Homo sapiens: one gene and its partner. The protein of the gene in region 1 purifies or fractionates together with the protein of each later gene. This does not show direct contact. Each region holds a gene or a part of one and is shown on either strand. Other genes may lie near its edges.

Region 1 (7,202 bases):
AACCGAGATTGCGCCACTGCACTCCAGTCTGGGCAACAGAGCGAGACTCCGTCTAAAAAATAAAAAATAAAAAATGTTTAAATCTGGTCTTTTCCTACTATACCACATGCCATAACAGTATAAAAATATGGGTAATCTGGGCAACAGAGCAAAACCCTGTCTCTACCAAAGATACAAAAATTAATGGGGTGTGGTGGCACACGCCTGTAGTCCCAGCTACTAGGGAGGCTAAGGTGGGAGGATCACTTGAGCCCAGGAAGTTGAGCTTGCCACTGCACTCCAGCCTGGGTGACAGAGCAAGATTCTGTCTCAAAAAAAAAAAAGGGTAAGCAAATAACTTATTCTGCAGGATGGGAGAGAGGAGCGGAAGGGCACAGCATGGAATAAATTAAAAAAAAAAAAAACTAAGAAAAGAAATATTTGAAAGATGAAGGTCCCCATTTTATCCTCACTATAGCTCCAGGCAGGGGGTCTCTACTTCAACTTCTGAAATAGCTCCCACACCTATATACAACCATCAGTTACCACAATAACCTGCCTTGCTTTTGTGGCTCCAGAATATTCCAGCAGCCTTGTATCTGGTGAGCTTTTTTTTTTTTTTTTTGAGATGAAGTCTCACTATGTCACCCAGGCTGGAGTGCAGTGGCGTGATCTCAGCTCACAACCTCCACCTCCCAGGTTCAAGCAATTCTCCTGCCTCAGCCTCCAGAGTAGCTGGGATTACAGGTGCTTACCACCACGCCCGGCTAATTTTTGTATTTTTAGTAGAGACGGGGCTTCGCCATGTTGGCCAGGCTGGTCTCAAACTCCTGACCTCAGATGATCCACCCGCCTCGACCTCCCAAAGCACTGGGATTACAGGAATGAGCCACTGTGCCCAGCCTCTGGTGGGCTTTTCTAGGCTCCTCCCATTCTAAGTCATTCAGCACTGGAAACAAATTAAGTTGCCTAAATTGCCTCATTTATCATGCTAAAGAACTTCTGTGGCTCCCTATTATTCTCAGAACACTGATTATCAGGATGGGTGTTTAGGAACATATCATCTAACCTCTCTGAGCCTCAGTTTCCTCATCCATATTAAGAAATGAGTCTTGAAGCATAACTCAAAAGCTTGAGGATTAAAGATAACATATGCCTTGTACCGTACTTTTTCTAAAGGTTATGTGCTCACTAAAAGTTAGTCCTCTTTCTGCCTGTCTCTACACACCCAGCTCGGTAAGGTATCTTAGCTTAAGAAGGAAAGAGCAAGTATTTCTAGGATTTTTTTTTTTTTTTGAGACAGGGTCTCACTCTGTCAATCTCCGCCTCCCAGGCTCAGGTAATCCTCCCACCTCAGCCTCCCCACAGGCACACACCACCACCATGCCCGGCTAAATTTTTGGAGACACAGGATTTTGCCGTGTTGCCTGGGCTGGTCTCGAATTCCTGGATTCAAGCGATCTGCCTGCCTCGGCCTCCCAAAGTGCTGGGATTACAGGGTCTTAAGTCAGGTCTTAAGAACACAAGGGGGAAAAAGGCTGCTCATCTATGGTTGTGTGATGGCCAGGAAAACATTTCTCACTCACAACTGCTCCTTTCGTCCACAGTCCTCCATACACACAGACCCCCTAGCCTTTATTTTATTCTATCCTTTTCGTCATTTGAGGAAGTGATATTCAAATTAAATTTAAATAAAGTTACACTGTGAAAAGTCTCACTCCCATTTTCTCCCCCTTTAGCCCAATTCCCACCTCACTCCCACCAACCACTTTATCAGTTTCTTGAGTATCCTTCAAACTTTTTATGAAAAAGCTGTCTTTAAATAAAGCTAATGTTTTACAGGTGTTAGCAAGGTTCGGGGTGGGGGAGGGTGGAAGAAGTAGTGGACTAGGTCCTATTCAACCTGGTTTACCCTAAAGCAGTGTCCTTCGCTCACTCAAAAATAACAATAATCATATGTTGGGCACCTGTTATAAGTCAGATGCTTAATATTAACTACCTTCAGCCCTTAGTATGCACCAGAAATGCACTAATGCTTTACACAATTGCCCCCTTTGATCTCCACAACAATCTTAAAAGGTAGGTTACTAATTCTCATCTTCATCTTACAAGTGAGGAAACTGAGGCACAGAAAGGTCACCTGCCCAAGCAAGAGAGAGGAGCAGGGCTTTGAACCCAGGCCTGACTCCAGAGTCCCTCTTAACCGTGACGCTCTACACTAGCAAACCAGATATAGTCTCTGCACCCGCTGGAACTCAGCCTAATGTGGGAGACGGGCGAGAAAAAGGCAGACAACAAAGAAATACGAAATTATAGACTAAGAAAGTAATGTAAACGAAACGAATTCGCGGCTGTGACAGAATAACAATGGGGACCTACTTTAGAAAGGGGAAGGAAAGAGTGTCAAGGAAAGGCCTGAGAAAATGACATTTATGAAATGCTCGGGAACCATTTGGGGGCTGCAATGATGACCCCCTCCCCCACGCCCAATACACGGGATAAACTCGAGGCCCACAGAGGCTAAAACAAACACGACAGGGTCCCCCAGACGTGTAGACGTGGCGCAAAGAAGGGAGGATCCAGAAACTGGGCCCAGGGTTCGTACACGCCATCAGTGTCCACAGCAGCCCAGCCCCGCTCGGCCCCTGACAAGGGACATCAAGCCAGCTGCTTCCCACGGCCCCGCTGCAGCTGAGAGCGTCCGGGCAGCTCACAGGGAGGCCTTCCGGCCAGCCAAAAGGGCTTTGGCCCGTCCAGCGGCGGCCTGGAAAGGCCTCTTCCCCGGCCCCCCGCCAGCTCCCGCCTGGTCCGCCCCGCCCCGCCCCTCCTGGTCCAGCCTCGTACCTGCACCGCCCGGACCAGGCCCCGGCCGGTCAGCTGGCCCTGCCGCAGCTGCAGCAGAATGTTACCAGGCCGCGGCCGGCCGCCCCATCCGCCCCAAGCCGCCACTGTGGCTGCCGACCGTCTCCCTCGGCCGGCTCCAGACCCAGCCGCTACCGGCGCCGCCGCCATGTCTCCTCGTCGGACAAACAGGAAGCAAGCGGCCTCGGGGCCGCGGAGATTTCTACGGGGCGGCGGAGGGGTCGCCGCAGCGCCCCCAGTGGGCCGTCGGCGGAGGCGCAAGCCGCGTGGCAGGGACCGTGTGCGGCGTGGAGGCTACTGGGAATTGTAGTCCTGCGCGGCAGCGGGGTAGGTGGGAAAAGAGATGTGGCCTTTCCTGCACTGCCGGTTTCTCTGGCCCCCGGGCCCAGCATTTCGGCGAAATCTCCCAAGGTCCACATTCTCCCATTTCTCTCGCCGATTTGGGCAGGATGCAGGCAGCTGGCCAAGAAATGATCCTGGGCTTCAGGTCAGGAGTCAGGCCCTCGAGTCCGCTTCCTGCCTGCTTCTCTCTACACGTGACTCACCGCGGACATCGACCAAGTCATCGCGCTCTGCCACTGCGCCTGTGTCCTCGTCAGGTCACTCCATCTATAGATTCTGGGAGCCTGATCAATCGTAGTTCCTGGGGCTTTCTCTGCGCCCGACACCAAACCATGTCTAGGGGAAAGGGAGGGTGTCTGGGATACAGTGGTGAGCAGAACGGCCTGGGATCCTTTATCACGAAATGCAGGTTACAGGGGAAGACAGCAGATCCATACACAAAGAAACGCAGTCTCAAACTGGATAAGTTGTGTAACTGGGTAGGTTGTTGTGAAATTAAATAATGGAAGGGAAAGGGATTAGTAAATTGTGACATCATATTCTCTGTCAGATGAAAACCCTGTCCTAATTTCTATCCACCAGATAGCATGTTGTCTCTAATACTCATTTTTTCAGCTAACTTCTGTGGCAGGATGGCACTGACTCCCCCCACCCAACACACACACACTTTTTCCCTTCCTAGCAGGGGGCCTGTAATAAAAATGAAAGAGGAGAGCTAAGTGTGATGTAACAGGGAATGGTGAAGATTGTGACTCATAACTAAGATGACTGTAACTTACTGCTCAAACCAGAACACTTTAAAGAATGAAAAGACACAATAAATAATTACACCGGGACGGTAGGCATAAAAGTGACTCTCCCAGGTGAACTGGCACTATGGTTACCATCCTCACACCCCATCTAAAAGGAGTAGACTCACCATCCATCTTCATAGAACTAGAAAAAAGAATCCTAAAAATCATATGGAACCAAAAAAGAGCCTGCATGTCCAAAGCAAGACTAAGCAAAAAGAATAAATCTGGAGGCATCACATTACCTGACTTCAATCTATACAATAAGGCCATAGTCACCCAAACAGCATGGTACTGGTATAAAAATAGGCACATAGACCAATGGAACAGAATAGAGAACACAGTATAAAACCAAATACTTATAGCCAACTGATCTTCGATAAAGCAAACAAAAACATAAAGTGGGGAAAGGACACCCTATTCAACAGCTGGTGATAACTGGCAAGCCACATGCAGAAGAATGAAACTGGATCCTCATCTCTCACATTATACAAAAATAAACTCAGCCGGGTGCAGTGGCTCACACCTGTAATCCCAGTGGCTCACACCTGTAATCCCAGCACTTTGGGAGGCCGAGGTAGTCAGATCATGAGGTCAGGAGTTCGAGACCAGCCTGGCCAACATGGTGAAACCCCATCTCTACTAAAAATGCAAAAATTAGCTGGGCGTGGTGGCATGCACCTGTAGTCCCAGCTACTTGGGAGGCTGAGGCAGGAGAATCACTTGAACCCTGGAGACAGAGGTCACAGTGAGCCGAGATCACGCCACTGCACTCCAGTTTGATGACAGGATGAGACTCCATCTCAGAAAAAAAAAAAAAAATAGCCAAAGAAGTTACAGTCAGGAGATATTTTGTTCCCTATAGAAACTGAATATAACATCTTAAAATTTGTCCCTGAGTGTTGTTTCTTAGAAACTCGAACCCCCACCAAATGGATCTGCTGATAGGCAAACTCAGATAAGGGAGAGCTGAGAACTAAACTTTGACTTCTATTTTTTGTTATAAATTTCTTCCTAGGGGGCCTGGAGGAGGACACGACCATAAGTCAGAGCTAACATTCTTTTCTGCAGATCCCAAATTTTTAGACAAAGCTTTACCTCCTTAACCAATTACAAGTCAGAAAATCTTTGAATCCACTTGTGGGCCCCTGGTTGGAGATGTCCTGTCTTTTTAGGTGGAACCAATATACAGCCCCTATGTATTGATTTATGACTTCGCCTGTGGCCTCTGCCCTCCTGCCATTAAAAACCTGTAAGCCGGCTGGGCGCGGTGGCTCACACCTATAATCCCAGCACTTTGGGTGGCCGAGGCAGGTGGATCACCTGAGGTCAGGAGTTCGAGACCAGCCTGACCAAAACGGCAAAACCCCGTCTCTACTAAAGATACAAAAATTAGCCAGGCATGGTGGCACGTGCCTGTAATCCCAGCTACTCGGGAAGCTGAGGCAGGAGAATCGCTTGAACCCAGGAGGCAGAGGTTGCAGTGAGCTGAGATTGCACCACTGCACTCCAGCCTGGGCGACAGAGCAAGACTCTGTCTCAAAAAAATAAAATAAAACCCCTGTAAGCCATAAGGGAGTTCAGGTCTTAAGCATAAGCTGTTTGATTCTCCTCGCTTGGCACCCTGCAGCAAGTGCAATAATAAATGCCTCACTTTCTCTTGCTGTAATCCCAATGTCAGTGGCTTTGCTGCACCAGGTAAGCAGCCCTCACTTTGGTTCAATAACAATACTTTTCATAACTTTTTGCACCAGCTATGTATCATTTCTAGATTCAAGAAAAAAAAGTCTTCTAATATGTGAAATTAACTTTAAAAAGACATAAAAAGAAAAGGCATTTCCAGGGATACAAACAGGGCATTGGTGAGCTGTCCGGGCAGCAGCCAGCCTTACCAGGGAATCCACAGCCCAGGGATTCCACCCAGAGCTCTTCCTGAGGCATATGGTGATGGATATTCTCACCCTTGTCGCGGTGAGGAGACAGGATCCTGACTAATTTCACAGTTCACATGGCCCTCCAGGTTTCCCTTGGCACTCATCATGCTAGGGACAAATCTTCCCACCTCAGCTTTGACCCAACTGCAAATGTCACTTTCCATTCCTCAGTTCCTATCTTTGTCAGTCTAGCCTGGCCCAGGCATTCACCAAAGCTGGGTATTCACTGGGTCAAAAATGACAACCTCAAATTCAGTCCTTACAGATACCATGTGACCATGAAGTAAGGGGACATGTTTCCAGAAACCTCTGTGGAAAGACACTCTTTTCCACTTCACCTCTGCTCTGCCAGCCTTTTCCGTAGAAACTAGCTGAGGCTAGGCGCGGTGGCTCAGGCCTGTAATCCCAGCACTTTTGGAGGCCGAGGCGGGCAGATCACGAGGTCAGGAGTTCGAGACCAGCCTGGTCAATATGGTGAAACCCCGTCTCTACCAAAAACACAAAAATTAGCTGGGCGGGGTGAAGCGCGCCTGTAGTCCCAGCTGCCCTGGAGGCTGAGGCAGGAGAATTGCTTGAACCCGGGAGGCGGAGTTTGCAGTGAGCCGAGATCGCGCCACTGCACTCCAGCCTGGGCCACAGAGCAAGACTCTGTCTCAAAAAAAAAAAAAAAAAGCTGAGTGTCTCTCACCACCAGAGGGCGAAGTACCTCTCCCACCAGAGGTCTGTTGATGTCAATTTTAATCAGCACTAGAAAAAAAATGAAGCTCCCAAACTGGCTAATTTTTTTTCCACCGTAATCCCAAATGGCTTAACCAAACATGATGATGCTATTCAGAGAACATTAACTCTTGTAAATAAATCGCCAAACTCATCTCAATTGGGCAGACAGATTTTCTGGGACTTTTTTTTTTTTTTTTTTTTTTGAAGTCTTGCTCTGTGGCCCAGCCTGGAGTACAGTGGTGTGATTATAGCTCACTGCAGCCGCCAAGCTCCTGGGCTCAAGCAATCCTCCCGCTTCAGCCTCCCAAAGTGCTGGGATTACAGGCATGAGTCATGGCACCCTGCCAAGAAGTCACTTTAATCAAAGCAACTGGCACTGTTATATCAGGCCATGGTAACAGCTGTCCCATGCAACTATGCATTGTCCTGTGGTGTCATTTTTTACAGTGATTTTTTTTTACATTACATTTCTAATGTACAACCTCTCCATGATTTGTCTTTTAAATGTTTGTTAAGTACTATCTTATGTGCCAGGCACTGTTATAGGTGCTGTGGATATTGTGCTAAATAAAAT
Region 2 (2,582 bases), on another chromosome or scaffold:
ACTTTTCTCAGCTTTGCCAACACCCATATGGTGCAGTATGACTCTGCCCAGCAGAAGTCCTGAAACCAACCCAGGTGGCACTGTTCCTCGCTGGATGGTGCAGTGCAAACCCAGAGAAGGCTGGGGACTGGTGGGCGCCAAGAGAAGGAGAAGTCAACACCTGCATACTCTACCACACGCTGTGACACACACTTCATGTGCCATTTCAGACAAAAAACCTGAGGTATTAAGCAGTAGAGCCCAGATCCGATGTCCAAAGCTGTGGTGATACTGCACCATGCTGTCCTTGGAATGACCACCGTGCCTTCCAGGATATGCTGGGGATGACCAATGAGGTTTTCAACCTTTGAAAATGCCCCTACTCCCAAATTTACACCACAAAAACATGGAAATCAACCTAAAAACAGTGCGGCTGCTTCTGCTCACTTCCTCAGGTTTGTACCAACAGTGGATCTGGTCTAACTCTGTTGAGGTCAGCATGTAGGAATCACAGTTCCAAGAAACAGAAACAGTGCACAAAAACATGAATGTCTCACGAAGGTTTATTTGAATAGAGTTACATCTAGAGTTCTCATTTCAGTGTACAAACAACTCAGTGCAGTGTTTCTAATACAAGTCATATAAAACTGGAACACACTAAATGAATAGTGCACTTGATAGAAAAATAAATTACACTTTAAATGCTACTGCAAAGTTTTACACATATAAAAGGTAAACACAAAATAGTTAGTGAGACCCTCATAACCACTTATCATATCCAGATAAGGAGATAAAAGGGGCAAAGGAATCTGTGCTATAAAAAAAAATCTCTCTGAAGAGGAGAAATCCTGACAAGTAACTGAATGATCATCTCAAGCAATGTGGTGACATAGGGACTTACAGATCGTATCTCTTAGAACTGGGAAGGAATCATAGCTCTACCAATGTGTTAACACAACCCAGTTCAGCTCAGGGCAAATTTCTATAATTCAAACAAATGTCCTCATACTAACGCCTAATATGTAGGAAAAGTTTCCAACTTTCTTCTGACCACTGAAGAGGTACAGTGTTTAAATTTTTGAGAGGATAAAAAGGACAAATAATCTAGAAATGTGTCTTCTTCAGTCTGCAGAAGACCCCAGGTCTCCAAGCAACCACATGGTCAAGGGCATGAATAATTAAAAGTTGGTGGGAACTCACAAAGACCCTCAGAGCTGAGACACCCACAACAGTGGGAGCTCACAAAGACCCTCAGAGCTGAGACACCCACAACAGTGGGAGCTCACAAAGACCCTCAGAGCTGAGACACCCACAACAGCACCTCGTTCAGCTGCCACATGTGTGAATAAGGATGCAATGTCCAGAAGTGTTGGCTGCCTCCAAGTGACAGGTAACACTGCAGAACCTATCTGAGGACCTGCCAGCCTCCCGTTTCACGCAGCCACTCTGCTGCTCTACAAAGTTTCACATCAGGGGTCAGCGGCTTTGTAAAGGGGACTCCGCAGGAACACAGCTGTGCTGGGGCTGCTGCTGCTGTACTGCGCCAGCAGAGCTGAGTGGGACAGTATTTACCATCTCTGGTCCTTTACAGAACAAGACTGCTGACTCCTCTCAATGACAAGACAAAAACTCTGCTTCTCGAGACTCTTACTTAGAAAAATAGCAGATTTTTCTCTCTGTGACTGATAAATAATTCTGCTAACAAGACTTCTGAAGGAAATCTTCATTTTGGGGCTTAGCTAAGAGAAGAAGAGGTGCAAGTTTTAGCCAGAAGTGAGAAGCATAAGATAACAAGTAGTCCAGATCCAAGAACCCAAGAACAACTCAGGGCTTTCATCCTTAAATCTCCATAGGATATCTGTGATTGTACAAAGGCAAAGGCTAGAGACAAATGTTAGGAGACTATAAGAAATATTTTTAAAAGTTTTTTCTTAAAACAATGTATAAATGTTAAGGAAGTAAGCACACAAGGAACAGAATCATTCCTCTGTTCAGCAGTGTCTCCTGAAGAGTAGGAATGAAATGACCATGACCTCCTGTGTGTCAAAAGATGATGCTACTGACATGTCACAAATTAGGTCTCACTGATTAATTTACAAGTTCTCAGGCAAAGTCTAGAGCAGGTAACTGAAACCTTCACGTCTTATTTTAAACCATCCTGTCAACTCCCACTTCCCCTATCAGGGCTATGAAATGGACTGAGTTGAGGTTCCTCTCCTGTCTGCCCGCAGGGAGGCAGCACTATCTGCTCCCCGCCACCCCACCGTGCTCCGTCCGAGGCGTGCACGGCAAACCCTCAGCAGTGCCCCCGGCTGCCCCTTCTCCAACCTCAGCCCAGTCTCACCAGCCTGCTTCTCACCCACTATCATCTCCAACCTTTCTCTTTGAACCCATCAAGGATGCCGGCACACATGCCTCTCTCTTCTCAAGAGACAGACATCTCCCCTTCCCTACCTGCCACATTCGTAGACCACCTCAGCCCTGCCTCTCCCCACCACACTGTTCTCAGGGGAGCAGAACAGGAAGAGCTGTTACAGCAGCTCTGCGCATGGCAGCAGCAGCAGCTATGACAGGAAACCAATCCCCAACACGCATTTAATCTG

Evidence for each region.
Region 2: the proteins of TRPC4AP (region 1) and EPB41L5 purify together in Homo sapiens (affinity purification with mass spectrometry; 2 studies listed by BioGRID and IntAct, with this or other methods). This does not show direct contact.

What each region holds. Positions count from the first base shown.
Region 1 is NC_000020.11:35,089,791-35,096,992, forward strand, and holds the start of TRPC4AP (short transient receptor potential channel 4-associated protein), read right to left. Parts: upstream 3,018-7,202; 5' UTR 2,992-3,017; coding exon 2,824-2,991; intron 1-2,823. UniProt on the Homo sapiens protein: Substrate-recognition component of a DCX (DDB1-CUL4-X-box) E3 ubiquitin-protein ligase complex required for cell cycle control.
Region 2 is NC_000002.12:120,177,062-120,179,643, reverse strand, and holds the end of EPB41L5 (band 4.1-like protein 5), read right to left. Parts: 3' UTR 525-2,582; downstream 1-524. UniProt on the Homo sapiens protein: Plays a role in the formation and organization of tight junctions during the establishment of polarity in epithelial cells.